2 linked regions of the Homo sapiens genome follow. The protein of the gene in region 1 interacts with the protein of each later gene in a pairwise test. Each region holds a gene or a part of one and is shown on either strand. Other genes may lie near its edges.

Region 1 (15,703 bases):
CATGATTCTATATCTAGAAAACCCCATCGTCTCAGCCCAAAATCTCCTTAAGCTGACAGGCAAATTCAGCAAAGTCTCAGGATACAAAATCAATGTGCAAAAATCACAAGCATTCTTATACACCAATAACATACAAACAGAGAGCCAAATCATGAGTGAACTCCAATTCACGATTGCTTCAAAGAGAATAAAATACCTAGGAATCCAACTTACAAGGGACGTGAAGGACCTCTTCAAGGAGAACTACAAACCACTGCTCAGTGAAATAAAAGAGGATACAAACAAATGGAAGAACATTCCATGTTCATAGGTAGGAAGAATCAGTATCGTGAAAATGGCCATACTGCCCAAGGTAATTTATAGATTCAATGCCATCCCCATCAAGCTACCAATGACTTTCTTCACAGAATTGGAAAAAACTACTTTAAAGTTCATATGGAACCAAAAAAGAGTCCACATCGCCAAATCAATCCTAAGCCAAAAGAACAAAGCTGGAGGCATCACGCTACCTGACTTCAAACTACACTACAAGGCTACAGCAACCAAAACAGCATGGTACTGGTACAAAAACAGAGATATAGACCAATGGAACAGAACAGAGGCCTCAGAAATAATGCTGCATATCTATAACTATCTGATCTTTGACAAACCTGACAAAAACAAGCAATGGGGAAAGGATTCCCTATTTAATAAATGGTGCTGGGAAAACTGGCTAGCCCTATGTAGAAAGCTGAAACTGGATCCCTTCCTTACACCTTACACAAAAATTAATTCAAGATGGATTAAAGACTTAAATGTTAGACCTAAAACCATAAAAACCCTAGAAGAAAACCTATGCAATACTATTCAGGACATAGGCATGGGCGAGGACTTCATGTCTAAAACACCAAAAGCGATGGCAACAAAAGCCAAAATTGACAAATGGGATCTAATTAAACTAAAGAGCTTCTGCACAGCAAAAGAAACTACCATCAGAGTGAACAGGCAACCTACAGAATGGGAGAAAATTTTTGCAACCTACTCATCTGACAAAGGGCTAATATCCAGAATGTACAATGAACTCAAACAAATTTACAAGAAAAAAAAAAACAACCCCATCAAAAAGTGGTCAAAGGATATGAACAGACACTTCTCAAAAGTAGACATTTATGCAGCCAAAAGACACATGAAAAAATGCTCATCATCACTGGCCATCAGAGAAATGCAGATGAAAACCACAATGAGATGCCATCTCACACCAGTTAGAATGGCAATCATTAAAAAGTCAGGAAATAACAGGTGCTGGAGAGCATGTGGAGAAATAGGAACACTTTTACACTGTTGGTGGGACTGTAAACTAGTTCAACCCTTGTGGAAGTCAGTGTGGCGATTCCTCAGGGATCTAGAACTAGAAATACCATTTGACCCAGCCATCCCATTACTGGATGTATACCCAAAGGATTATAAAACATGCTGCTATAAAGACACATGCACATGTATGTTTATTGCAGCACTATTCACAATAGCAAAGACTTGGACCCAACCTAAATGTCCAACAATGGTAGACTGGATTAAGAAAATGTGGCACATATATACCATGGAATACTATGCAGCCATAAAAAATGATGAGCTCATGTCCTTTGTAGGGACATGGATGAAGCTGGAAACCATCATTCTCAGCAAACTATCACAAGGACAAAAAACCAAACACCGCATGTTCTCACTCATAGGTGGGAAGTGAACAATGAGAACACATGGACACAGGAAGGGGAACATCCCACACTGGGGCCTGTTGTGGGGTGGGGGGAGGGGGGAGGGGGGAGGCATAGCATTAGGAGATATACCTAATGTTAAATGAAGAGTTAATGGGTGCAGGAGACCAACATGGCACATGTATACATATGTAACAAAACTGCACGTTGTGCACATGTACCCTAAAACTTAAAGTATAATAAATTTATATATATACATCAAAAAAAAAAGATTTCTTGAGGTCTTAGATGCATTCTGAAAGTGCTATCCACTATTTTTGTACTTCAAAATGACACGATTGTGACCCTTGAAATACTCAGAGAATATTTTACTTGTAGATCTCAAAACTGCATAATAAATATTACTCAGAGTCATAAGTATCGACAGAGTCGTCGACAATATTCCTATTCTTTAATGCCTAACACCATACTGACAAGATTAATTGAAAAAATATGCCTTAGGGGAAAATGTAACAGTTGGGTATGGAGGGTGGGGAGGCTCTGGGATGGTGGGAAGGAGAGCCTATGATACAGATTATACTATCTTCATTGTTAAACACTGAATATAATCTCCTATCTTTCCTTACCAGCAGATTCACCTTCAACCTTCTTGCTTTTACCTAATTTAAATCGTTGCTTTATTCACACCTAAAACAAACACTGTCATAGGTTCATGTCCATTGCAGCATTTTGTGTACAGACTACAAGTTTTGCTTTAGAAGTTATGAGAGGCAGAAGGAACACAGCTTGAGGTTTTAGTTTTCAGGCTGAGCTTGCAGCAGGGGAGACCGAACAAACTTTGGGCTTGAAACCAATCCAACTTGTAAATCATCAAGGAAAAATGAAACAAAATTAACAATTAAATCTACCCAGGTCTAGTCTAGGGAAAAGCTGTAAAGTTCTAAATATGAGGATTTGGGTTCAATTCGCACACCTCCTGTCCCTGATATATCCTGCTCATGCTCCTGCAAAGCATGTCCGACCCTTGGTACCATTTTATGTTTGGTTGATCTGATACCACTCCTTTCAGCATAGCTGATGACCCCTGCTAGCACCAATTTTCCAAGACCATGTTTCTTCTTCCCACTCTTTTTTTGGTACTACATGCATTCTACCAGTGGTTTTGGACGTTGTAATTCATTCCAGAATAGCGGAGACTTTGATCCTAATATTTTCAATTTGTCAGAAGGGAAAGCAGTCCCAAGACAGGTTGGTAGTAGGAATTGGCAACAAGGAGTCATCTTTGGGAATCCCCAATCATACTGGGTGGGCCACCTACTTTGTTTCCAGAGAGCTGGCAAAGGTAGGTAGAATACAGAATAAATTTCTCTAGTCATTTTGTTAATGATCTATTCAGGAGAACACAGTGTTTGTACTGAATGATCCTTATTGTTGATATACAAGCCCTATGTCATTAAGTAATGACACACCTCTTGCCTTCAGTTTGCCCATGATTACTTAGTAAGTTTGAGGACTAAGTTGTATATTTTTATTTGATAGACAACATGATTTAGTAATAAGAGACAATAGCCTAGACAGAGGAATAAAGAGTTTTAGGTCCTCTTGTTCTCTTACAGCTAAATTGTGGCAAATTACCAAATTTCTGAGTCTCAGATTGCTCTCCTGTAAAATGGAAATTTTAAAAGCCTATTACTAGTCTAGGGATCAAATAAAAAAATAAACATAAAAGGGCTTTGCAAAATATAAAGTTCTTCACTGATAAATCATCATTTATCTTGTTTCTGTCCCTAAAGGGAGTTAAATTTGTCTTAACTCCTCTACTCCCTCTCAACTAGTCCTCCTCCTTGAGAACAACTTAGAATATTCATTTGTAAAATAGATGCCCCAGTTAGGGGTATGGCTAGAATAAAGCCACTGTCCCTAAAAGAAAATGAACCTACAGCTAAAGCTAGTGAGACCATACAAGGAAGAAAGTGGTCTGACTGATCTCATGTTATAGTTTCAAGAAGGAGCAGATGAACTCCGTGAACACTGAGTTATTCACTGTCAAGATGCACGATGTCCAATCAGTTCATTCTGATTTGCGGAATGTCATTAGATCACTAGCATCTAATAGGTGGATGAACTCAGTGTACTCAGGGGTGAACAGGTGTCTCACAGCTGGGAGCTGCCAGAGAGCCAAGGTGCAATCATGAACCATGTTTTCTGAAATTAGCTCTGATGAAAAATATTATTCCAGAGAGAAATTTTTCAAAGAATAGGCAGAGCATTTGGTAAATATAGGATTGAACACTGGAAAATTTAAAAGAATTTTGTTTCATTCTAATCACTGAATGGTAGTATACAGAATTCCATCTCTACAGTTGAAATTGCATCTCCATACGACAGACAACTGGATCTGAAGTTTAATATCTTGCATGGACATTACCATGATTACATATATAAATTACCCCAATCAAGGTGAACAAAGGTGAAATGATGCTGTGCTTATTTTTAAATATTTCTGCCTAGCACTAGTTGGATAGACTCAGCCAAACTTTGGGCCTAATTATCTGCTCCAATGATGAGAAGTGACATAAAACTATCAAAGATAACCTTACTCAGCACATCATATGTTTAAATAGCAAGTTGCAAATTACACTTTCAGAAGCAAGGTTACATCACCTTGTATTTGATAAAATGATTGGTTTGCCAAGGAAGGAGGATCCTACTTGCCCACTGTTCCAGCATTAGCACTACTTTTTCCAGCTTGCCTCATAAATCCTGGAATAAGGTAACTGATTTCCATCTATAGGCATACCTTGGAGATATCACAAGTTTTGTTCCAGGCTACCACAATAAGGCAAATATTGCAATAAAGTAAGTCACAGGATATTTTTTTTGTTTCCCAGTGCATATAAAAGTGACACTGACACTACAATGTAGTGTGTTAAGTGTGCAATAGCATTATGTCTAAAAAAAGTATCTACCTTAACTTAAAAAATATTGTATTGCTAAAAAAAATCTTGCTTAAAAAATATTGCTTAAAAAAGTTGGCTGCAGCAATTGACTCTTTATTTCACAAAATATTCCTCCATGATATGAACTGCTCTTTGATAGCATTTTACCAACAGTAGAACTTCTTTCAAAACTCAAGTCAATCCCCTTAAACTCTGGACTGCTTTGTCCACTAAATTTATGAAATATTTTAAAATCTTTGCTGTCATTTCAACAACGTTCACAGTATCTTCCCAGGAGTATATTCCATCTCAGGAAACCAGTTTCTTGGCTTATCTATAAGAAGTAACTCTTCATCCATTAAAGTTTTACTATGAGATTGCAGCAGTTCTGTCATATCTTCAGACCCCACTTCTAATTCTAGCTCTCTTGCTGTTTCCACCACATCTGCAGTTACTTCCTCCATTGAAGTCTCAATCCCTTCAAAGCTGAGACTTTGAGTTCCTGAGAGATGGAATCAACTTCTTCTAAACTACTATTAATGATATTTTGACCTCTCCCACCAATCTCAAATGTTGTTAATGACATACAGAATGGTGGATGTTTTCCAGAAGTTTTTAATTTACTTTGTCTAGATCTATCAGAAGAATTCCTATCTATGTCATCCATAGCCTTATTACTTCTTAAATAATAAGATGTCAAAGTTAAAATTACTCTTGATCCATGGGCTGCAGAATGGGTTTTGTGTTAACAGGCATGAAAACAACATTAATCTCCTTGTACATCTCCATCAGAGCTCTTGGGTGACCAGGTGCATTATAAATGAGCAGTAATATTTTGAAAGGAATCTTTTTTTTTTCTGAGCAGTAGGTCTGAACAGTGGGCTTAAAATATCCTGTACATCTATGCTGTTAAGTAGATGTGCTGTCATCCACACTTCATTGTTCCATTTATAGAGTACAGACAGAATAGATTTAGCATAACTCTTTAGGGCCCTAGGAGTTTCAGAATGATAAATGAGTATTGGCCTCAAATTCAAGTCATTAGCTGCATTAGCCCCTAACAAGAGAGTCAACCTGTCCTGTGAAGCTTAGAAGCTATGAAAGTCCTAGATGGCCTTTTCTTTCTATAGAAAGCTGTCTTATCTACATGGAAAATCTGTTGTTTTGTGTGGCCACCTGCTTCAATTATTTTAGCTAGATCTTCTGAAAAACTTGCCACAGCTTCTACATCAGCACTTGCTCCTTCACCTTGTACTTTGATGTTATGGAGATGGCTTCTTTTCTTAAATCTCATGAACCAACCTCTGCTTGCTTCACATTTTTCTGCTACAGCTTCATCACCTCTCTCAGCCTTCACAGAACTGAAAAAAGTTAGGGCCTTGCTCTGGATTAGGCTTTGGCTTAAGGGAATGCTGAGGCTGGTTTTATCTTTTATTCAGGCCACTAAAACTTTTTCCATATCAGCATGAGGCTGTTTCGTTTTCTTATCATTTGTGTTTTCATTGGAGTAGCACTTTTAATTCCCTTCTAGAACTTTTCCTTTGCATTCACAACTTAGCTAACTTTGGTACAAGAGGCCTAGCTTTTGGCTTATCTCAGCTTTTGACATGGCTTCCTCACTAAATTCCTTCGGTTTTCGATTTAAAGTGAGAGATGTGCCACCCTTCCTTTTACTTGAACACTTAATAGTCCATTGTAGGGTTATTAATTGGCCTAATTTCAATATTGTTGTGTCTCAAAGAATAGGGAGGCCTGAAGAGAGGAAGAGAGACAGGCGCCAATAGTGAAGCTTTCAGAACACACACAACATTTATTAAGTTTAGCATCTTCTATGAGCAGAGTTTGTAATGCTCCCAAAAAACTACAATAGTAACATCAAAGATAACTAATCATAGATCACCATAACAGATGAACAGCAAGTGAACACATGCTGCTTGAAAAATGATGCTGACAGACTTGCTTGAGTAAGGTTGCCAAAAAACTTCAATTTATAGGAAAACATATTATCTGCAAAGTACAATAAAGGGAAGCAAAATAAAAGGAGGCGGGGATTTGCTTATGGAAACAGCTTCGTATCTGTGATAAAGGAATATACTAAGTAAAATATGGACTACCCTGGACTGTCTAACACAACTACAACCGATATTCACTTGGACAAGAACTTAGTTCAAGTGCTTCTGTGGTCACACAACCCAAAAGGCCTCCACAGCAGAAAAGCTGCTATTAGGTACTCACTAACTAAGTACTGAGTCCCCAGTGTTTCCTGAGGGTTATTTCACAGGCTCCTGACCCTGAAGCCTCTCAGAGTTATTCCAACATTAAGGTCACTTCTATGAGGAAGAGGTGAGAGGAAAAAAGACCAATAGTGGAAGGCCAGCTTCAGCGCAACACATGTATTTAATAGTTTCTCTCATCTTTGAATATTTATTCACATTTCCCTTTAAAGTCTGTTTTTGAGGGGGAGAAGCTTTATTCGTACCTACTTAGTGGCTGCTTTATAGCAGTAAAATAGATGCTTTTGCAGAATTCTTTTCTGCTTTTCTTTTGTGAGACGGAGTCTCATTCTATCACCCAGTGGGGAGATGTCGGCTTACTCAATCTCTGCCTCGCAGGTTCAAGCATTCTCCTGCTTCAGCCTCCCGAGCAGCTGGGACTACAGGCGGGTACTACAGGCGCGCACCACAACGCCCGGCTAATTTTTGTATTTTTAGTAGAGACGGGGTTTCGCTATCTTGGCCAGGCTGTTCTCCAACTCCTGACCTCAGGAAATCCGCCCGCCTCGGCCTCCCAAAGTGGTGGGATTACAGGCGTGAGCCACCGCTCCTGGCCCCTGCCTTTTTATTAGAGATACAAATCACACACGCCCTTCGCTTCAAGGGGAGCCCCGCCCCCTACTTCGGGCATTCGGCCATCCTGTGTTCTCTAATGGCGTGGGGCAGAGCTATCGCGAGACTCCACTGTATCCTCAGCAAGTTTTTAACAGTGTGAACTTGCGCAGAAGAGACTCATGAAGCCAGCGCAGGAGAAAGGGGGCGGGGTGCTCTGACGAGCGCGTTCGCCTTGACCCCACGCTACAGCGCGCGCCCGGCAGCTAGGCGCTGTGGTTTCTGGGTCTCCCGGGGGACCCCTACACGTTCCGGCAAAAAGCGCTCGTGCCCACCTCAAGCCCATGTTCGGTGGGTGGCGAATGCGTGCCCGTGATCTGCTGGGTCTGTAGAGGAGCGCAGGCCTGGTGCAAACAGACTCAAGAGGCTCGGAGAACCAGCTTGGGTAGGCGCTTGGGTGATGGAAGGTCAGGGGTCAGAGGTCGGGAGGGAGGGAGGGAGGTGGTCTTTGGCCTCCGGGACCAGGGAGGGAGGACGCTGGTTGTCCTGGAGCCCGGGAAGCTCAAGGGCTGAGAGGGAGCCGCTGCGCGAGTCTTCCCCACCTCTTCCCGATCCCGGACTAGCGAACTTCGGACCACCACGTCCCTCCGGGGATAAAGTGGGGTCGTGGGAAAGGAGGCTGTGCTTCTCCTCATGCACTGGGGCCTGCGGTGTTTGTCTCGAGCGTCCAACACACTAGGATCCGGGAGTCCGTCGTCACGCTCCTTGGCCTCGCGGTCGCTTGTTTGCTCGGCCTGCTGGGAGCGATCCGGCGCTGACAGCCCCGCTCAGACTCCGGGAGCCGCTTGTGGGTCTTTCGGAAGATAACTGAGTGGGTACCGTGCGCCGCAGATCTACCCCCGGAGGCTGGAACTGGGTCGCCGCCTCCCTTCTTTGTGCGCGGCATTGTATTAGTAAAAGGGGAGGCAGAGGTTTCTCAGTCCCACTCAAAGTTCTCCGTTACCTTTGGAGCCAGATTAATTACATTCGAATTCAGAACCACTCTTTGACATTGTACAGTTTGACTGGTAGTTGCTATGTTTATGAACGAAGATAGGGTGTTATTTGATGATTAATAGTCACTGTATAATGATCAGTTAAATAATGACCAGGAAGCTTGTGCCCTTTTTCCAAGTAGTTTGACATTAGCACGAGGTAGAAATCCGAGATGTTTGATGCCTTCCAACTTGTACTTAAGGAACTTAAGGAACTTGGGGCTTTTTCTGAACAAAATAAGATAAAGTTATTACTGTTACTTTAAATTATTCCAGTGGGCATTAGTAGGAATGATGAAACTCTTGAATAGAAACGATCCATGATATCTCTACTGTCACAAAAAAGACTATTTAGTTTATGATTAGTAAACATGCTGGAGACAGAGCAGTCCTGAGCAGTATTGTAATGATTATGTCTGTGCTCGATAACCTGCACTTTCTAGAGCTTTAAAGGACCAGTTAACCAGTAAGCTGGCAATTGAGAATAAAATAGTTTACTTTTGAGAGATGCTCTTGTATATCCTCTTTGTCCACCCGAAAGGAGCTGGACTTACAGAATTATTAAAACAAAACTTTTATTATTAAGAGTTTAGGCCAGTAAGATTTAGGGGAAACAATTTGCTGGTGAAAAAGCTTCTTATGAGGGCATTTTTAAAGTTTATGTAACTAGCATATTTTAGCATTCAGTAGAAGAAAATACTCTCACCTTGCTGGAATTATTTCTACAGAAAAGGAAAAGATTATGTTAACCCTGGGTCATTAAGAGCTTCCTAGTACTTAGTAATGAGTGGGCTTCATTTCCATAACACAACATTTTGGACAGGAATATGGCAAGTATGTAATCCTTTTTGCCCTTAATAGCCTAAACCCAGATCTACCATGGATTTGTTGTAATTCAAGATTTGTGTGTATCTTTTAAAGAGGAAATAATATTTTGGAGGGAAAAAATGTGAATTTAAGTTGTGTTATTCATTTGTTGGATTGTCTTAGTAATGTAACATTTTATGTTTATTTTTCTAGCATTCCATCCTTGTTTTCTGTTAAAGATACAGTTCAGGCAGTTTTCCCTGCCTCGTTCTAGTATTTCATTTTTCTCAGAAATACTAGTTTCATATTACCTATAGTCTTCTAGAATGTGGATAAGAGAGACTTCTCCAAAAAGAAATAAGAGTAAAGTATCGTTAGGTCCTCAAAAGGAGGGAATACATCCACGGAATTAGAGATCTTTGTTTCACCCTTTTTGTATGTCTTTACTTCCTAGCACTGACCTGGCATTGGGAGTACAACACTGAATAGGATACTACTCCTGCCCATCTTTCAAAGTGAACACTCTAGCAGTTGGGATCGAGGAGAGAGAGGCCCTTAACTCAGCTTCTCTAGTCATGGAAGCCTTTCCAGGGAAGATTGGGATGGAGACAGGCATAAAAGCAATTCAAGCAAAAGGCTTTTATATTTAAATACAAGACAGTAAAAGTGCGGTCCATATAGAAAACTTCACATAATTACGTTTTACCCAAACACTGCTAATTAAGGAGGAGGAAGAAGTAGTTGTGACTGATAAGGTATGAATAAAACCAGAAGAATATGGGATGTGGTTAGATACAGAATTTCACCAGTACTTGACTTACTAGTTGCCAAATTGCATTTTAGTCATAAGTATATTTGACCAAATACTATTTTCTTTGGTTCAAGAAGTTAACCCTGAATAGAGATTTCCTTAAGTAAAGACTCAGTCAAAACCAGGAGCTTTTTGTTTGGTTGGTTGATTTTTGATCATGAATGTTTACTCAGTTAAGAACTGGACAAAGGGAGAGCATTGCTAGAAATTCTGGTGTTGACTTTTCTGCAGTTTATCATTATCACTGATAAGTACCTTGAGGCACTAATATTGGAAGAATCAGGCTGAAAGAATACATCTGAAGGAATGTGCAAATTATAATGGTGTACATAATTTAAAAGATACTGGATAGGTTTTACCAGAGAACAGAATAAATAGTTGAAGTAATGTTTTCTGGTTTGGTAATATGTCTGTTACAAAATTATTGTGGGAAACATGGCACATATTACTTCTCACATTCCATTGGCTAGGACTGGTCACAGGACCAAACCAAGCTGGGCAGTCATTTCTCAACTACTCTATACTTTGAGTGGAAATAAGTGGATTTTAGTTGGCAGCTGGTTATCCATAACAAGGTTTTTTGAACTTGGCTGCACCCTGGAATTTTTTAGGGATTCTAAAAAATAAAGGGAGTAGTGCCTGGGCCCTTCTCCAAGACATTCTGACTTAGTTGGCTCGACATCAGGATTTTTTTAAGTTCCCCTGGTGATTCTAATGTGCAGTCAAGTTTGAGAAGCACTAATCTGTGGTCCCCCATCCTGCGACATTACAGTTTGGTTATTGTGAAATGTGGTTTAGAGCAGGGGTCCCCACCCCTCAGGCCATGGACCGGTGCCAGTCCGTGGCCTGTTAGAACCGGGCTGCATTGCAGGAGGTGAGTTGCGGGCAAGCGAGCATTACCACCTGAGCTGTGCCTCCTGTCAGATCAACAGTCAGTAGATTACCATAAGAGCATGAATGCTATCGTGAACTGCATATGCGCAGGATCTAGGTTGTGCACTTCTTATTAAAACCTAATGCCTGATGATCTAAGGTGGAATAGTTTCATCCCTAAACAACCCCCTCTCCACTCCACCCCTCTCCTCCGGTCCATGGAAAACTTGTCTTCCATGAAACCCATTTATGGTACCAAAAAGGTTGGGAACTGCTGGTTTAGAGTGTTCTCAGGATGATGATAAGTAGCAACTACCATTTATGGAATACAGGCCAAATTTCTAGTACTGCTGTTGTACTTAAATTATTTCTAACCACAATCCTGCTATCATCCCCATTTTAGAGATGAGAAAATTGGCACAGAAGACTGGATAACTATTCCAATGCCACACAGTCAGTAAATGCCAAAGCTGGAATTAGAATGAATATAAGACTTCAAAGCATTGCATTCTCACCTTTAAGCCACATCGCTTTGCTAATGTGAGACTCTGCTAGACAGTTGCTTTTTGGGTTTTCAGAGTTAATGATTCCACAATAACCATGTTATTAATATTATTATGGTTAGTGTGATACATTGTGTAACTGGCCCAATTCCCTTCCAACACTCCCTCTACCCTTCCACCCCCCATATCCATGCTCTTTGCCATGTGCAGTTTCACCTAGTAAAGAGGTGTAGTATATTTCTTCACCACTTGACATTGGGTCCATGGATATGTCTTGCTTTGGTCTGTGGCACCTTAGTGGTTTTTAAGCACTTTGAAAACTACTTGTGTGATTGGATTTGCAGTAATACACCTCAACCATTGCCATAAAGAACATTCCTGAGTTACTTTGCTGATCCAAGGAGAGGGGATAGGAACTACATTAAGCAGAGCCAAACTGCTTTTCCAGAAACCTAGCCTAGATTAGCCTCCTTCAGCTAATGTGCAGATCTATGAGAATAAATGATTGCTATATCAAGGTATTGAGCTTTGAGGTAGTGTGTTACACAGCATGTTTGTGGCAGTAGTTAACTGATAAGCTACTATAGCATAACTTTTTAAAGTTCCTGCAGAGTGACCCACTTTCAGTATTCCAGCTTATGCTTTGAGGAAAACTGGACAAACATAAACACTTAGGAAATTAAGAGCTTTCTATATTATTCCACTAAGATAAGAGAGGATAAGATGCTTTAAAAGTAGTTGACCATAGCCAAGGATTGATTTTAATCCATCACCTGCACATTCATAAGTGAAGCACGGGCTAAGGGAATAGAATTCTCATGATTGACTTAAACAAGCACTGTCTGATACATAGACTTTTTGCAATTATGTGAATGCTCTATATTTGTGCTGTCCAGTACAGTAGCCACTAGTCACATAGCGCTACTGAGCACATGGGGCTAGTGAGACTGAAGAGCTGAGTTTATAACATTTAATTTTATTTATAGTCATGCATCACTTAATGATGGGGCTGTGTTTTGAGGAATGCATCATAGGCAAGTTTGTTGTGTGAACATCTTAAGAGTATACTTACACAAACCTAGGTGGTACCGCCAGCCTACTACACACCTAGGCTCTATGGTACAGCCTGCTGCTCCTAGGCTACAAACCTGTACAGTATATTCGGTACTGGATACTGTAGGCAGTTGTCACACCGTAGTATTTGTATATTTAAACATATTTAAATATAGAAAATGTACAATAAAGATATGGTATAAAAGATAAAAAATAGTACACCTTTGTGGGGTACTTAGCATGAATGCAGCTTATAACACTGAAGGTTGCTCTGGGTTAGTCAGGGAGTGAATGTGAAGGCCTGGGACATTACTGTACACTTCTGTAGACTTTGTAAACACTGTACACTTATGCTACACAAAGTTTATTAAAAAATAAAGTAATGCGGCTAGGCGCGGTGGCTCACGCCTGTAGTCCCAGCACTTTGGGAGGCTGAGGCATGCAGATCTTGAGTTCAGGAGTTCAAAACCATCCTGGCTAACACATGAAACCCCGTCTCTACTAAAAATACAAAAAAAAAGTTAGCTGGGCATAGTGGCAGGCGCCTGTAGTCCCAGCTACTCAGGAGGCTGAGGCAGGAGAATGGCATGAACCCAGGAGGTGGAGCTTGCAGTGAGCAGAGATCACGCCACTGCACTCCAGCTGGGCAACAGAGTGAGTCTCTATCTCAATAAATAAATAAATAAATAAATGCATTATGATGTTACAATGGCTATGATGTCACTAGTCCATAGGAATTTTTCAGCTCCCTTATGGAACCACTGTAATATTTGGTCCCTCATTGACCAAAATGTCATTATACAATGCATAACTGTATTGAAAGTTAAGTAGTCACATGCAGCCAATAACTACCTTATTGGATTTGCTTTGGCCAATAGTAGCTAGAAACTACTTCCTTGGAGGTGCCAAGGAAATCACTTCCTTTGAATCATAGGGCCACCTTGTTCCTAAATAAAGGTTCAGTCATCAGGGAAGGAGGATAGACCTTAGGCAGGTAAATAATGTCACTTTAGTTTCTTTTATGGTTATTGGTCTATTCATATTTTCCTTCTTGGGCCAGTTTTGTTCATTTGTATTTTGTTAGCAAAATTTTATCACTTTATAATTTATCATTTTATCTAGATTTTTCAGATTTATTGAATAAAGTTATACTTAATATTAAAATTTCTAAATCTCGTGCATCTTTTTGTTTTTGCTCTTTAAATCAACTTTATGATATAATTTATGTATAAGAAAATTCAATTTAAAGTATATAATTTGATGAGTTTTGACAGATGTATACTCTGCAATCATGTGTTGAACATTTATGTCACCCCAAAGCCTGCCTTCCTGCTCCTTTACTGTCAGTCACCTCTTTATACTTCCTTGCCCCTGGTAACCACTCATCTACTTTCTGCAATCAGGTTTTTGCCATTTCTAGAATTTCATGTAAATGGAATCATATAGTATATAGTCTTTCACATCTAGCTTTCTTCAGTTTAGCATAATGCTTTAACAGTTCATTCAGGTTATTTTACAGAAGTCTCTTTTTATCACAGAATAGTATTCCATTGTGTGACTATGCCACAATTTGTCCATTCACCAGTTGATGGACATTTGGGTTTTCTTCCAGTTTGGGGCTTTTAATAGTAAAGCTGTTAACATTCAAGTTTAAATTTTTGTGGATTTATGTTTTGATTTCTCTTGGATAAATACCTAAGAGAGGGATTACTAGGCTGCATAGTAAGTTATATTCAATTTTATTAGAAACTGATACTTTTCCAAAGTGACTGTGCTGTGTTCAAATGTTGGAGAGTTCAGTTCTGTTTGAGCCATACTCTCAGTGTTTTAAATTTTTGACTATTTTAGTATATGAATAGTGGCATCTCATTGTGATTTGTGGGTTGAATTTGTATTGCTTTAATGACTGATGCTGGTGAAAATATTTTCATATGCTTATTTTACACTTATAGGTCATCTTTGGTGAAATGTCTATTCAAAATTTTTGACTTTTTTAAATGTTTGTCTTACTATTAATTTGTGAGAGTTCTTTATATATTCTGCAAACATATCCTTCATCAGATACTTGATTTGCTAATATTTTCTCCCATCTGTGACTTGCTGTCATATTTTGATGACAGTATCTTTTGAAGAACCAAAATATTTAATTTTGATGAAACTTAGTTTATCATATTCTTACATAGTCTATGGTTTTTGTTTCCTGCTTAAAAATTTTTGTGCCTTTTTTTTGGGCTAATCCAATGTCATTTAGGTTTTCTCCTCTGTTTTCTTTGAGAAGTTTTAGTTTTAGCTTTTATAGTTTATTATCTATTTTTAGTTAATTCTTACATTTTAGGAGGTAAAGCTTCATTTCATTGCATATTGGTATCCATTTACTAAAAGGATACCTTTCCCATTGACTGCCTCTGAACTTCTTTCAAAAATCAATTGACCATCCATGTGTGGGTCCACTACAGGACATTTCCCTTGATCTATATGTTGGTCTTTACACCACTACTGCACCATTTTTATTTCTTTTGACATATGTCTTGGAATCAGTGTAAGTCATTCAACTTTATTTTTCTTTTCTAAAATTATATTGACTTTCCTGTATTGTAGGCATTTTAGTATAAATTTTAACATCAGGTTGTCAGTTTCTACAGAACAAACCTGTTGGAATTTTGAATGGGATTGCTTTTCTATAGGTCAGTACTAAGAAATTGACATCTGAACATTTTGAGTCTTCTAGTCCATGAACATAGTACACTGTATAGATCTCTGATTATACTGTTATACTATTTTCTAAATTTTTATGTATGCTTGAAAATTTTCAGAATGAAAGTATAGTAAGTTATCTTTTACAGAAATTTAAAAATCAAGAAAAAAGTTTACTATATTTATACACATATTTTTTGTTTTTGCTTTTTATTTCCTTGTGTGTGGATCCAGATTTCCATCTGATGTCATATTTCTTCTACCCAAGCGCTTCTTACATTACTTAGATTGTAGGTATACAGGTGATAAGTCCTTTTGGCTTTTGTTGATCTTTTTTTCACCTTCATTTTTGAAAGATATTTTGCTGGGTTTAGAGCTGTGGGGTGGGAGCAGTGTCTAAACCAGAGAAATAGGGCCAATCTGGAGAGAAGTCCTCACTTTTCAGTAATTTAATTATGGCATACCTTATTGTG
Region 2 (16,073 bases), on another chromosome or scaffold:
AATACATCGGTCAAATTCCTCTACAGTGTAATCATATCAATTTATATTCCTACAATGTATGAGGGTCTATGTCTCTGCAATCTTGCCAATATTTGATATGAACAAGCTTTAAAAATTTGCCGATCGGTTAACTCATTAGTATTTTAATTTGCATTTATCTTATTTCTAGTGGGTTAAGTACCTTTTTCAATTTTTTTGTTTTTAAAAGATGGGGTCTTGCTCTGGAGTGCAGTAGTGCAATCATAGGTCACTGCAGTCTCAAACTCTTGAGCTCAAGGGATCTGCCCACCTCAGCCTCCCAATTAGCCTGACTACAGGTGCATGCCACCATACTTGGCTAATTTTTAAATTTTTTTGTAGAGACAGGATCTTGTGTATTGCCTAGGCTGGTCTCAAACTCCTGGGCTCAAGTGATCCTCCCACCTCAGCCTCCTGAGTAGCTAGATTACAGGTCTGTGCCACTGCATCTGGCTAATTATTATTATTATTATTTTTTGTAGAGACAGTGTCTCACTATGCTGCCAAGGCTGGGCTAATCTCAAACTCCTGGCCTCAAGCAATTCCTGGACCTTCCAAAGCTCCTGGCCCATTTTCAGACAATAATTTCATTGCCTATTTTTATTTCTTCTAGAAATTTTCTGTTTAGTCTTTGTTTACACTTATATTGAATTATTTTTATTATATTTTAACTTACTTGAAAAAATGCTTTAAAATTTGGATACTCACCTTTGTTATATAGCAAAGATTAATAATTAATATAAATTAATTTATCCAAGTCTATTCCCTGCTTTAGAACTTCTCTTGTCTTGCTGCAGATAATTTAAATTTGTATCTGGTTGGGTTTATCAGATTTTTATTCTATGCCTTTTGATTCTTTTTTTTTTTTTTTTTGCCTTAAGAAAGCTCTTCCTGGCCGGGCGCGGTAGCTCACGCCTGTAATCTCAGCACTTTGGGAGGCCGAGGTGGGCAGATCACAAGGTCAGGAGATCAAGACCATCCTGGCCAACACGGTGAAACCCCGTCTGTACCAAGAATCCAAAAAAATTAGCCAGGCGTGGTGGTGGGTGCCTGTAGTCCCAGCTACTCGGGAGGCTGAGGCAGGAGAATGGCATGAAGCCGGGAGGTGGAGCTTGCAGTGAGCCGAGATTGCACCACTGCACTCCAGCCTGGGCGACAGAGCGAGACTCCATCTCAAAAAAAAAAAAAAAAAAAAAAATGCTCTTCCAGGCTGGGCATAGTGGCTCACGCCTGTAATCCCAGCACTTTGGGAGGCTGAGGTGGGCAGATCATCTGAGGTAAAGGGTTCCAGACCAGCCTGGCCAACATGCTGAAACCCCGTCTCTACTAAAAATACAAAAATTAGTTCGGTGTGGTGACAGGTGCCTGTAATCCCAGCTACTTGGGAGGCTGAGGCAGGAGAATTACTTGAGCCCAGGAGACAGAGGTTTCAGTGAGCTGAGATTGTGCCATTGCACTCCAGCTTGGGCGACAAGAGCGAAACTCCATCTCAAAAAAAAAAAGAAAGCTCTTCCTTTTACCAAATTGTTAAGAGATTCTCTTGTATTCTCTCTTAATAATTTGAAAGTTAGCTCTCTCCCTCTCCCTCTCCCTCTCCCTCTCCCTCTCCCTCTCCTCCCTCTCCCTCTCCCTCTCCCTCTCCCTCTCCCTCTCCTTTCCCTCTCCCCTCCCTCTCCCTCTCCCTCTCCCTCTCCCTCTCCCTCTCCTTTCCCTCTCCCCACGGTCTCCCTCTCATGCGGAGCCAAAGCTGGACTGTACTGCTGCCATCTCGGCTCACTGCAACCTCCCTGCCTGATTCTCCTGCCTCAGTCTGCCGAATGCCTGCAATTGCAGGCACGCGCCGCCACGCCTGACTGGTTTTGGTGGAGACGGGGTTTCGCTGTGTTGACCGGGCCGGTCTCCAGCCCCTAACCGCGAGTGATCCGCCAACCTCGGCCTCCCGAGGTGCCGGGATTGCAGACGGAGTCTCGTTCACTCAGTGCTCAATGGTGCCCAGGCTGGAGTGCAGTGGCGTGATCTCGGCTCGCTACAACCTCCACCTCCCAGCCGCCTGCCTTGGCCTCCCAAAGTGCCGAGATTGCAGCCTCTGCCCGGCCGCCACCCCGTCTGGGAAGTGAGGAGTGTCTCTGCCTGGCCGCCCATTGTCTGGGATGTGAGGAGCCCCTCTGCCTGGCTGCCCAGTCTGGAAAGTGAGGAGCATCTCCGCCCGGCCGCCATCCCATCTAGGAAGTGAGGAGCGCCTCTTCCCAGCCGCCATCACATTTAGGAAGTGAGGAGCCTCTCTGCCCGGCCGCCCATCGTCTGAGATGTGGGGAGCGCCTCTGCCCCGCCGCCCCATCTGGGATGTGAGGAGCGCCTCTGCCCGGCCGAGACCCCGTCTGGGAGGTGAGGAGCGTCTCTGCCCGGCCGCCCCGTCTGAGAAGTGAGGAGACCCTCTGCCTGGCAACCGCCCCGTCTGAGAAGTGAGGAGCCCCTCCGCCCGGCAGCTGCCCTGTCTGAGAAGTGAGGAGCCTCTCCGCCCGGCAGCCACCCCATCTGGGAAGTGAGGAGCGTCTCCGCCCGGCAGCCACCCCGTCCGGGAGGGAGGTGGGGGGGGTCAGCCCCCCGCCCGGCCAGCCGCCCCATCCGGGAGGGAGGTGGGGGGTCAGCCCCCCCGCCCGGCCAGCCGTGCCGTCCGGGAGGGAGGTGGGGGGGTCAGCCCCCCGCCCGGCCAGCCGCCCCGTCCGGGAGGTGAGGGGCGCCTCTGCCCGGCCGCCCCTACTGGGAAGTGAGGAGCCCCTCTGCCCGGCCAGCCGCCCCATCCGGGAGGGAGGTGGGGGGGTCGGCCCCCCGCCCGGCCAGCCGCCCCGTCCGGGAGGGAGGTGGGGGTGTCGGCCCCCCGCCTGGCCAGCCGCCCCGTCCGGGAGGGAGGTGGGGGGGTCAGCCCCCCGCCCGGCCAGCCGCCCCGTCCGGGAGGGAGGTGGGGGGGGTCAGCCCCCCCGCCCGGCCAGCCGCCCCGTCCGGGAGGTGAGGGGCGCCTCTGCCCGGCCGCCCCTACTGGGAAGTGAGGAGCCCCTCTGACCAGCCAGCCGCCCCGTCCGGGAGGGAGGTAGGGGGGTCAGCCCCCCGCCCGGCCAGCCGCCCCCTCCGGGAGGGAGGTGGGGGGGGTCAGCCCCCCTGCCCGGCCAGCCGCCCCGTCCGGGAGGTGAGGGGCGCCTCTGCCCGGCCGCCCCTACTGGGAAGTGAGGAGCCCCTCTGCCTGGCCACCACCCCGTCTGGGAGGTGTGCCCAACAGCTCATTGAGAACGGGCCAGGATGACAATGGCGGCTTTGTGGAATAGAAAGGCGGGAAAGGTGGGGAAAAGATTGAGAAATCGGATGGTTGCCGTGTCTGTGTAGAAAGAAGTAGACATGGGAGACTTTTCATTTTGTTCTGCACTAAGAAAAATTCCTCTGCCTTGGGAATCCTGTTGATCTGTGACCTTACCCCCAACCCTGTGCTCCCTGAAACATGTGCTGTGTCCACTCAGGGTTAAATGGATTAAGGGCGGTGCAAGATGTGCTTTGTTAAACAGATGCTTGAAGGCAGCATGCTCGTTAAGAGTCATCACCAATCCCTAATCTCAAGTAATCAGGGACACAAACACTGCGGAAGGCCGCAGGGTCCTCTGCCTAGGAAAACCAGAGACCTTTGTTCACTGGTTTATCTGCTGACCTTCCCTCCACTATTGTCCCATGACCCTGCCAAATCCCCCTCTGTGAGAAACACCCAAGAATTATCAATAAAAAAATAAATTAAAAAAAAAAATAATAATAATAATAATTTGAAAGTTAATGTTTTACAATTAGATCTTTAATCTATCCAAAGCTTACTTTTGTGTATAGGGTGAGACAGAAATATAAATTGCATTGTGTATGTGTGTGTGTGTGTGTGTATCCTCCCAACACCATTTGAACTGTCTTTTGACCATTTAAATGTGTCTATCATTTATCATATTCCAAACACATACATGAGTCTGTGTCTTACATTTTTGTTCTGTTCCATTAATCTTTTTTTCACTTTTCTTGTACCAATATTCAGTGTTTTAACTACTGTTGTTTTATCATATCTTGCTATATTGTAAGACAAATCCTTGTTATTCTTTCTCAAAGTGATCTTGAATTTACTCTCCCATATGAATTTTGCAATCAGTTTTATGTTCCAAGAAAGTCTTGTTAATTTGGTTGAGTTAGCATTGAATCTGTAGATTAATTAAGGAATCATGACTATCTTTACAATATTGAGACATTTTATCCATTAACATGGTATAGCTTGCTATTCCGTCAGATTTCTTTTTATGTTTTTCACTAAAGCTTTGTAGTATTTGCAATAATGCTCTCACACAGTTTTATTGAATTTATTTCTAGTTACTTTATAGTTTTACTTGTTGATTTAAATGGGACCTTCCCCCCGCACCCAGTTGGATATTGTTGTCATATAAGAAAGCTCTTGGTGTTTGATAACTCCCCACCAAGCTATATTCACTTATTAGTTCTAATAGTTTCTCAGGTGACTCACTTGGATCCAAGTCCACCTTCTTGTCTTAGCTCAGAATAAGTTCTAAATGACAATTTGTTAAATGAATTTTTAAAGTGATTGATCATTTTGTAGATTCCTGAGTTACCAGTCTGAGCCTGTGTTCTCCATTCTGGGAGTAGAAAGATACTGAACGCTAGCTATGGTCACTGATAACACTAGATTGTTTTTCCATTTGTCCTTTTCTTGCAACAGCAATAACCAAAGCAAACATCCCTCAAAAAACTTCTCTAGCTGAATTTCATTACTTGGGTTTCAGGTTTTAATATATGAAGTTCATCTTTTGGAACAGATTTTATCTCAAAATCTGAAGCAAGAAATAAATTGCTATGTATGAAGGCATTCACTAAAAAAGCAGCTGGAAATGGTGCTGGGTGTGGGAGCACCCATGATCAAGGCACCAGGAACACCTGCAAGGTTGTGAGTGAGGATCCCGAGGCTACAGGAGGATATGTAGAATAAAAGTGCCCTCTGCACAGCCACACTTTTTCACCCCATCCCATCCCTCCTCTCTGCTCTGCACCTACCACTCCCCACCCAGGGCATTCTAAGTGTGTTTAGCAATACACCATACTAAGAATCACCCACACTTTGCCATTCTGTTTGTGGGAAACCAAACACTGCTCATGCTTCTAGTGAGTAAACAATTCAAAGTAAACTGCAAGTAGACAAGAGAGATTTAATCTCCTGTGTGAGGAAGGGTATTGCATAAGTGAAGAGAGGAACTTAAGATTCATGCTTAAATACACGCACTGGAATGCTGTGTCTCTGACAAACAGAAATCAAATCAGCACAAAGGTAATATTTTACTTAAGCTTCTGTCCCTCTGTTGACATTTTGGAATAAAACTTTCCAGATAATTTTATGTATGTATGCAAAATCTACAAGGCAATTGACTCCTGTATAATAATGAATGCTTAAGAAGGTAACAAGACTAGGCATGGTGGCCCACACATGTAATCCCAGTACTTTAGAGGCCAAGGCAGGTGGATTCCCTGAGCCCAGGAGTTCGAGACCTGCCTAGGTAATGTAGTGAGACTCCTGTCTCTACAAAAAATAAAAATAAAAAAATTGGCCAGGCGTGGTGGGGTACATCTGTAGTCCCAGACACTCAAGAGGCTGAGGTGGAGGGACTGCTTGAACCTCAGGACGACGACGCTGCAGTGAGCTGTGATCATGCCACTACACTTTGCACTCCAGCCTCGGAGACAGAGCAAGACCCTGTCTCAAAAACAAGAAGGTAGCAAAAGAAGATTTAATATTTTCTGATAGGAATGGAAAACCAAACATCGTGTGTTCTCACTGATGTGTAGGAGCTAAGCTATGAGGATGCAAAGGCATAAGAATGATACAGTGAACTTTGGGGACTTGAGGGAAGAGTGGGAGGGGGCAAGGGATAAAAGACAACCAATATGGTGCACTGTATTCTCCTCGGGTGATGGGTGCACCAAAATCTCACAAACCACCACTAAAGAACTTACTCATGGCCGGGCGTGGTGGCTCATGCCTGTAATCCCAGCACTTTGGGAGGCCGAGGCGGGCGGATCACGAGGTCAGGAGATCAAGACCATCCTGGCTAACACGGTGAAACCCCATCTCTACTAAAAATACAAAAAATTAGCTGGGCGTGGTGGCGGGCGCCTGTAATCCCAGCTACAGGAGGCTGAGGCAGGAGAATGGCGTGAACCTGGTAGGCGGAGCTTGCAGTGAGCTGAGATCCAGCCACTGCACTCCAGCCTGGGGGACAGAGCGAGACTCCGTCTCAGAAAAAAAAAGAACTTACTCATTAACCAAATACCACCTGTACCCCAATAACGTATGGAAAAAAAATTCTGATATGTTTCTCCTGCATTTGGATGAGGATGTAAATTCAACTCTAATAAATTACAGTGTATCAAAAGGATTAAAGGGTCTCTCCCTGCATTCTCTCCTAGCTCTGTTCCATCCTACACACAGCTGCTGGATTAATCTTCCAAAACACCAATTTTCTCATGCCACTTTTCAAAAACTAGCTTCCTGGCTTCCTGTTGTCTAAAAACTAGTTTCAGATGCTTTTGTCTGGCATTCAAGAAGGTCAGTAGTCTAGAGCCTCCTAAATGTTTCACTCCTGCTCCTTCCTTCTACCACTTACCACCTGTGTGCTCTTGGGTTAGTTGTTATTATTATTATTATTTTTTGAGATGGAGTCTCACTCTGTCGCCAGGCTGGAGTACAATGGTGTGATCTCAACTCACTGCAACCTCCCCCTCCTGGGTTTAAGTGATTCTCCCACCTCAGCCTCCTAAGTAGCTGAGAGTACAGGCGCCTGCCACCACGCCCAGCTTGGGCTAATTATTTTAAGACCGGTCCCCCTGTCCCTGTAAAGATCCCACGCACCTCCTCCACTCAGTGGCTCACTGTAGCAATGCCCTGAAAGGCTGTAATTGAGTCATATTCCAGCCCCTGGACTCAGGAGTCAGGGGTGATGTCGCCACCACCTAATTGCTTGGATTGAGGATGGGAACAGTGATTCTCAAGAAGAAAACTTGGACACTATTACCAGAAGTTAGTACAACTGCCTTAAAGCACTCTGGGCAAAATTTAACAACTGTCTGTTCCAAAAATGCAGAGACATGGAAACTTAGTAACTCTTGTTGGGGCATCTTCCATCACATATGATTCACTAAGGGTATATCAAGCAAATTCAACTGTAGGAACTGGCACATTCTGAGGCATAGGGTCTCTTATGTTCCTAAATTTATATTTTACCATCGTGGTTCTAGCCACTTTTCTGTAGATCAGTCCCACTTGAGCAGCCCAGTTTGCTGGGTTTTATCTGTATGGAATGTACATATCCTTTGAAGTAAGACACATGTGGTTCAATAATGTAACTTTTTAGATTGCAGAAATTTCACTGTAACACTTACCTCAAATGGCATAAAATAAGCAAAAACATGTATTCTGTGATGAATCAAACAAAATATATTTTGAGTTGTTGTTTCCCCCATTTAAAACAGCACATTTCTGATCATTGTCATCTGTTTGTGAAAAGACATGAGACCAACAGTCCTTTCCACACTTACGGCTGCAGCCTTGTGCCCATGAGTTAAAGCCTCGGAATTTGCCTGAAACTTTCCCTGTCAATCCGAGATGGTCATGACCAAGCCACTTTGCTTCCATACATCTTCAGTGCCTCCTTCCACACACACATCTTTCCTGGTTTAAACTTTCATTTCTCCAGTACTATAGCAAAACAGTATTTGCAAATCTCTTTTGACCACAAACTCCTAACAGTCAGGGACTTCTCATTTGGATTTCCCCAGGGCTTGGAATTTTGTTTTGTTCATGGGGAGGGGGTGAGATTTTTAAAATTGCATTAATGAATGAAACCAATCAATCCATTGCTCCATGCTGTGTACAAACACTGTAATAAATATTGGTTGACTTCTTATAACTAAGGCAATAGGAGCTTCTCTCAATAAACTAAATTCCAAGGAAAGAATGAAGGTAGGAAAGTAGCTGGTTTATTTGCACCTACTATATGACAGGCCTTAGTTTAGGTTTGTTTGTTTGCTTGCCTGGAGACAGGGTCTCATTCTGTCACCCAGTGGTGTGGTCTGATCATAGCTCCCTGAGGTCTGTAACTCCTTGGCTCAAGTGACCCTCGTGCTTCACCCTCCGAGAGTAGCAGGGACTACAGGCATGTACCACCATGCTCAGCTAATTTTTTTTTTTTTTTGTCAGAGTCTTGCTCTATCACCCAGGCTGGAGTGCAGTGGCACAATCTCAGCTCACTGCAGCTCTGCCTCCCAGGTTTAAGCGATTCTCCTGCCTCAGCCTCCCAAGTAGTTGGGTGCCTGCCACCACACCTGGCTAATTTTTGTATTTGTATTTGTATTTATTTATTTATTTATTTATTTTGAGATGGAGTCTCACTCTGTCACCCAGGCTGGAGTGCAGTGGCATGATCTCAGCTCACTGATCCTCCACCTCCTGGATTCAAGTGATTCTCCTGCCTCAGCCTCCCAAGTAGCTGGGATTACAGGTGCCTGTCACCACGCCCAGCTAATTTTTGTATTTTAAGCAGAGACGGGGTTTCACCATGTTGGGCAGTCTGATCTCGAACTTCTGACTTCAAGCGATCCACCCACCTTGGCCTCCCAAAGTGCTGGGATCCAGCTAATATTTAAATTATTTTGTAGAGACTGGGTCTCAAAATGTTGCATAGGCTGGTCTTGAACTCCTTGCCTCAAGCAATCCTGCCACCTTGGCCTCCGAAAGTGCTGAAATTGCATGTGTGAGCCACCATGCCCAGCCAGTATTTTCACATAAACATTATTTCAGTGAATTCTCACAATCCTGCAGACACTTGCAGACTCAGTTTTGGTTTCTTACTTAATGTAACACAACCTTAGAGTGACAGGTCCATCAGCGAAATCCAGCATATTTGACTCCATGATTACCAAATGCACTATCTCCATTTATTGGAAAAGGAAAATTGGAGGTCACTCAAAGAGCAGTGAAGTTATGGAAATATGAAATTTTTCACATGACTCTGAGATTGAGTGTTTGGGTACTATCGGGAAATGTTAAAAATGTCCATTTTCTTTTCTTTCTTTCTTTCTTTTTTTTTTTTTTTTTTTTTTGAGACAGAGTCTCACTCTGTCGCCCAGGCTGGAGTGCCGTGGTGCAATCTCAGCTTACTGCAACCTCCACCTCCCAGGTTCAAGCGATTCTTTTGCCTCAGCTTCCTGAGTGGCTGGGAGTACAGGCATGTGCCACCAATCCAGCTAAGTTTTTTGTATTTTTAGTAGCGGTGGGGTTTCATCACATTGGCCAGGCTGGCCTCGAACTCCTGACCTCAAATAATCCACCTGCCTTGGGCTCCCAAAGTGCTGGGGTTACAGGTGTGAGCCACTGCACCCAGCCCAAAAATGTCTATTTTCAATAGTGGTTTAAAACACTCTTGGACAGCAAAAGAAATAAAAGTTGAAGGACATTGTGACAGCAAATTGATTGTATGGGAACTCTGGTGAATGCGAATCATTTTTAAATTACTTTTTTTGTAAAGTGCAAAACAACAATAGCACCCATTTGCGTCATACTTTATAGTTCGCAAAGCACATGGGAAAAATAAAGGTAATGATGGGGATCGTTGCAATTCATAGGAAAGGAGGCACGAGGAAATGAAAATGAAAGGGAGTAATAACTACGTAACTAGTCAATCTTCCTTAAAAAAAAAAACCCTTAAAATATACCACCATCTTCTATTTGATATAATGCAGAATGGGAATGATAAAAACATGAATTACATTTCAGAGTTTCAAAAAGCAAACCAGCTTTATAGCAATGCTTGAGGTTGGGCTGCTAACAAGCTCACTCAACTAGTGTTTCCTGACGGCCAACGTCAGAATAATTCCATCTCCATGAGAAGTACAGAAAGAACCACAAACCAAACCTCCAAATTGATTCTAAGATAAAATACCCTTAAAAAAAATTTCCCTTCCTATCCGAAGGCAGACCAAGAGGAAGTTTATCCTCCCACCTACAAATTCCCCAGAGAGCTTTCATCTAGAAGGTTTGACTCTGGCCAGACAACCAGCGAGCATCTTCTCGCAATCTGTTGCTTCTTCCATGGCAAACTCCAGAGAATTAAGAAGCCAAACTCAACATCGCCATGGGCCTCAGGACGACTAAACAGATGGGGAGAGGCACTAAAGCTCCTGGTCACCAAGAGGGTATGTAGGCATTTGCTGTCTTCCTGGATTTCTCAGAGCTGAGTTTTTAGCCAGAGGTTGCTTATTTACGATAATTCTTGGATATATTATACACTAAATACTATTATTATCTTTTTCGACCCGACTTTTATCTTTCTGTTCTTATGTGTGAAGGCAGAGAAAGATTATTTAGAGCTCTTCAAAGATTCCTATTTAATTTAAAATGCCTGTCGCCTTCCTATAATAGGCTTATGATGGATGATAGCTTTAGTTAAAATGTAGCAATCTTAAATATATTCTTCATAACCAATTCCAACGTGTTCTCACTTAAGTAATGGGTATAAAACCCCACTTAAGCGTAATATTTTAAATATTTGAAGCCATCTTTTCTGAGAGAACCCGAAGCTGTTTTTTCTAGAGAAGCTGTGAGTGTGTATTGGGCGACTTCTGTTCACTCCTTTTCTGCAGCACTCACCCTGGAGGTCATGTAGTAACTAATGCCAAAGAAAAATCAAAATAGAAAGTACCAGCGTGTGCCATCATGCAGCGGCAGAGCCTGCTTAAAGATCAGGAAATTTGTCTAAATATCAGATCGCCGGCGGGCATCTCAGCCCAGGCCTGTGTAAGGGGAGTTCTGGTGTCTCAGCTGAGGGCGTGAGTAGGGAGCCAGGAAAGCGACCCGCGACTGCAGCCGTTTCTTAAGGCCAGTCCTTCGCTCGCAGTCTGTCCCGGGCGGCAGTCGTGTCAGCCCCCCGCTAGGACCCGCCCAGGGGGACGTGGGTACCGGGCAGGACGCGCGCTCTGGGCGCTGGGGACGCCCGGGACACTCGGGGCCCCGCCTTGCGTCCCAGCCCCGGGTCGCGGCACCCCGGCTCCCGCCCCGCGCCTCTGGAGGGAGGTACCGAGGGACGCGCAGCGAAGGGGCTTTGCTAATTGCCAAAGCAGGAAGTGAGCTCGTGGAAGAAGCGAAGGAGGAGAAGAAGAAGGGAGGGGAAGGCGGAGGAGGGCAGGGGCGCGCAGAGCCACGGTTTGCTCCAGGCGCGTCGGAACCGCAGGACTTTTCATCCCCGTGGTCCCACGGTCCTCCCGCGCCCCGGAGGCCTGCCAGCCCCGCTCGGACGCTCGTTTGCCCCTAACCCGCCGCCATGGCTTCACCGGACGACCCTCTGCGCGCAGGTAAAGGGACACAGCGCCGCGCCCGCTCCTGGAGCGAGCACCGCGGGGCGGGAGCTCGGGAGGCGCTCGCAGCAGCCGCAGGGCTATCGAGGCCGGGCCTCGGCGACCCCCGAGGGAGGCCCGGGAACCACCCCCGACCCAGGCGCCAGACCCGGAGTCGCACGGGGCTCCCAGTCCAGCCCCGCGAGCGGCTGCTGACCGCCCCTCCCGCGCTCGCCAGGGCCCCTGCCCCGCGTCAGCCACCGCGCGCCTTCCCCCTGCCCATGCCGCAGCCCCCGTGGCTTTTGTTCTGGACTCGGGATGCCAGGTTGAGACACGTCCTGCAAACCTCTGGCAGAAATGGGCGCAAGGGGGTGGATTTCGTTTTCGCCTCCCGGGCTTTTTCTTTCTCCCCGCTCACATGCCTTCTCATTACTCCTCTTCCTCTCTCCCATTGCACTTTGATGAAATGGTTTTGTCTGTCTAAACATTGGCCCTCGGAGCTATTTCATCAGATAGTATCCGCAGAATCGAGAGGCGGATCCCACCTGTGGGATCCCATCTGTGATTAGAATGGCCTCTAGTTCTGTCTTTATTTTAAAATATTGTGTGTTGGTACCCGAGGTCGGAGTGGAGATTTTTCTCTATTCTCTCACGTGAATCTAAAATCCGTCCCAGACCTCGCTTTCCTGGAGTTCTCTCTCTCCGCTGTCCTATAACCTAGACGGTGACATCCGTGGGTGTTTCTTGAACACACGAATGAATGATCTATCCCTCAGAGTACACTGGGGCTTTACTTGGTTTTGTTGAGGTTGGAAACACTGAAGAGAGTTACACAGAACCTGATATAACCGTTTAGATAAACGCGTTTCCTATTTCATTTCTTGAGCTTGGGCAGGGGCCGAGTTTGAATGTTCCATCCTTAAATTGTGGCTTCAGCAGTCAAAAGGAGACAGTGTGTCTGCAGGTGGTCAGAAGACTACACCCAACAACTAAGTTGGCATTGTGATGGCTGGGTTTGGGGGCGTTTCTTGGAAACTTCAAAGAAAGATCTACCTTTTTTTTTTTTAAGTGGGGATTGTTAAACATTTTATCAATTGGATGCGGAAAATAAATACATTGTCTAGATATTCTTCCCCATCCCCATACCTATTGTTTGAAAAAACAGAAGGGGAAACAAAGGGAGAAACCCTCCTACTGCCCCATCCCACTCCACTCCTACCCTAGCATCCACCTCCTTTTCTGAGAACTGAATTGACAAGGTGCCAAGGGGTGTTTTAGGCTGGATTTTACTACTAGTGGCCTCAGATCTCATTAAATGATGATTGCAGGGGTGGGGGGTGGGGGAATTCAAAAAGATCTTGAGAGAGATACACTGCATGGAGATAAAATGTAAAATCTACTTGGGCTCCCCTAAATCGACAGTACCAGGCAAGATGGGGGCTGGGAAACAGCTCAGCAGTGACCACAGTGTGTAAAAAGCTCAGTGGCTGGGTGCAGTGGCTCAGGCCTGTAATGCCAGCACTTTGGGAGGCTGAGGCAAGAGGATTGCTTCAGGCCAGGAGTTTGAGATCAGCCTTGGCAACATAGTGAGACCCTGACTCTACAAAAAATAGAAAAATTAGCCAAATGTGCCAGTGCATACCTATAGTCCCAGCTACTCGGGGGGCTGAGGCAGGAGGATTGCTTGAGTCCAGGAGGTCGAGGCTGCAGTAAGCCACTGCACTCCAGCCTGGGTGACAGAGCAAAAACCTGTATCTCAAAATAAATAAATAAATAAATAAAAAGCTACAGGTTCCAGATTTCCCAAGATGGTGTTCTTAGTCTGCCCAGCCCAGCCAAAATGGATGTGCACAACCTGGAACAAATGGGCAACATGGAACAAAGGGATTTCAAAATCCCAGGACATGTGGAGGAGTGAGAGGACAGAGGATATGATGATAAGAGGGCGTCATGTGGAAAGAATCTGTCTCTTTGACTTCAAGAGGTAGAACCCAAACCTGTCGGTGAAAACTTTAGAGAGAGATGGATTTGGGCTTCCTACAAAGAGAAAGGAGGCCTCCTAAGGGTGAGAGCTCCCCACCAGTTGGCAGAGGATGCTGAAGAACATACTTGACCATCTGAAAGATGATCCAAATGTCCATTCCCGCTCTGGGACTCTATTCTGTCTATAAAATGAGCGCTCCTCCATTTAAACACAGGCGCACACACACACCCCAATTTCCCCTTCCTAACATATTGTTTCGTTTCTGCAACCCACAGGAGACATCCCCTTACTCCTATTTCTGTAATGAAACCATAGATGGTGCCCATATCTTGAGCTCGCTTTACCCCAGACCAAGTGACCATACTCTCTCGCCTGATTTCCCACACTCTTCTCCCGCCTGGTGTTTTCACACCATTCCAACGTAGGTTTTCACACCCACTCTTGCCTTCTGGTAACCTATTCTGCAAAAGGTTGCCAGGGCCATCTTTTATTTTATTTTTATTATTATTATTTTTCAAGATGGAGTCTCACTCTGTCACCCAGGCTGGAGTGCAGTGGCGTGATCCCCACTCACTGCAACCTCCGCCTCCCGGGTTCAAGAGATTCTCCTGTCTCAGCCTCCCAAGTAACTGGTATTACAGGTGCACACTACCACACCTGGCTAATTTTTTGTATTTTTAGGCTGGTCTCGAACTCCTGACCTCAAGTGATCCACCCACCTCGGCCTCCCAGAGTGCTGGGATTACTGGTGTGAACCACTGTGCCCAGCCAGTCGTCTTTTAAAAACAAATCGGATTCTGCCATTTGTCTGTGCTGGCTTTGAATCCGGTGCTGGCTTTCCAACACTCCGACAGATCCTCAGTCCTTGAGGCTTACACACTCTGTGCAATCAATCCCTACCTGTTCCTTCACTTGCCTCACCTGACACCTAGCTTGACCCCTGCTCTCTGCACGCAGCCGTGCTGCCTCCTTTCATTTCCTTGAAGCCTCTTGCACCCTCGTGCCTCCTGGCCTTTGCAAACTTTGTTCCTGCGGCCTGGAAGGACCCCTGCATTCCAGCCCTCACCCCATCCTCCACCCACCCGTTTCCTTCTACTTAACCTCCAGATTTCAGCTCATAGGTCACCGGGATCCAGCCCGATGTTATACATGCTCAGCAAACCCTGTACCTTTCCTTTCTGGCACCTGTCACAATTTCTAGCTGTGATTATTTGGCCACCGTGGCTATTTCCAGTAGGAAATAAACTCGTGGACAGAGGTCATGTCTGTGTGGTAGCTCTCCCTAACACTCAGCATAGTACTCCGCACATAGTAAGCCCTGGGCAAATACCACCTCAGTGAATGAAGGAAGGTTATAAAATTTAACCACAGGCTCTTTAAAGAGTTGGGGGGAGAAAAAGCTCTTCCCGTATTGGCATTTTAGGAACTTACTCATCGAGTTAGCCGTATTAACTAAGTTTTCTTTGTAAAGTTAAAGTAAGATGTTTGTATATCCACGTGCATATAACAAAAGTATGTATATGATTATAGTATATTATGAGTTAATTGTATTTATTTATTTATTAATTTTTTTGAGACAGAATCTCACTCTGTTGCCCAGGCTGGAGTGCAATGATGCGATCTTGGCTCACGGTGACCTCCACCTCCTGGGTTCAAGCAATTCTCCTGCCTTAGCCTCCCAAGTAGCTCGGATTACAGGGGTGTGCCACCACCCCTGGCTAATTTTTGTATTTCTTTTTTAGTAGAGACGGGGTTTCACCATGTTGGCCAGGCTGGCCTGGAACCACTGACCTCAAGTGATCTGACTGCTTCAGCTTCCCAAAGTGCTGGGATTACAGGCATGAGCCACCACGCCCTGGCCACACCCTGGCCATGAGTTAATTTTAAGTGACTTTTTACATTGAGAAAATTCACAAGACTGTCACAGTCACATGGAAGGAAAACAATGATGGTGGTTATAGTGTAGCTATCACCCTGTGTCTCTCCCACTGAGAAACAGTCTCACAATGGATGAGCCAGATTTGTCTGTCAAATGTTTGTAAAATCTGTTTGTTCATGATTGTTCATACAGATAGATTTTACAGACAGAAACAAACAACCGGGCTTTGAAGGTCTGGGTCAAAGGTGGCACAATTCCTTGCTTCGTTGCAGTAAGGCAAGTGCCGACGGCCACAGAGCATTGCAAAAGAGCACATTCTCCCTTTGTTCTGAGACTCCACACCGCAGGGCTGTTTCCTGGGGGAACCCTGGGCCTGGGCCACCAACTCAGGACAGCCCCAGTGGTGGCATTCACCTCTCACTGCCCCTCCTGTGGGCTTCAATGGGTCCAAGGTGGCAACCTACCCTCCTGTGGCATTGGGCGCAGTACCCAGGACTAAAGGATAAACCACTTCCTGGAGCACTCATATGTGCAAAGCTGGACCAGCCAATTCTTTCTGCAGATACACCAAAGAGAGGGATGGCAATCTGTGGTTTTCCCTTCTCTGCTCCTTCTGCCCTTTCTCTTTCTCCTCCACGTGGGTTTTCCCAATGCTCACTTCATTTCTCTTCCTTTCTTACAACGCCTCTGCTTTGTGAGTTTCCTTCTCTCTACCCAAGCATTTTCCCTGAGCTTTATCTCTTTGTTTGCTGTCTTCCCTCATCCTCCCCTGCCCTCTTCTGT

What was found.
Region 2: the proteins of SHPRH (region 1) and EDARADD interact in binary tests that used the Homo sapiens proteins (3 or more experiments, as listed by UniProt).

The regions. Positions count from the first base shown.
Region 1 is NC_000006.12:145,956,354-145,972,056, reverse strand, and holds the start of SHPRH (E3 ubiquitin-protein ligase SHPRH), read left to right. Parts: upstream 1-7,698; 5' UTR 7,699-8,326; intron 8,327-15,703. UniProt on the Homo sapiens protein: E3 ubiquitin-protein ligase involved in DNA repair.
Region 2 is NC_000001.11:236,384,216-236,400,288, forward strand, and holds the start of EDARADD (ectodysplasin-A receptor-associated adapter protein), read left to right. Parts: upstream 1-10,070; 5' UTR 10,071-10,229; coding exon 10,230-10,290; intron 10,291-11,197; exon of another isoform or gene 11,198-11,414; coding exon of another isoform or gene 11,415-11,445; intron 11,446-16,073. UniProt on the Homo sapiens protein: Adapter protein that interacts with EDAR DEATH domain and couples the receptor to EDA signaling pathway during morphogenesis of ectodermal organs. Mediates the activation of NF-kappa-B.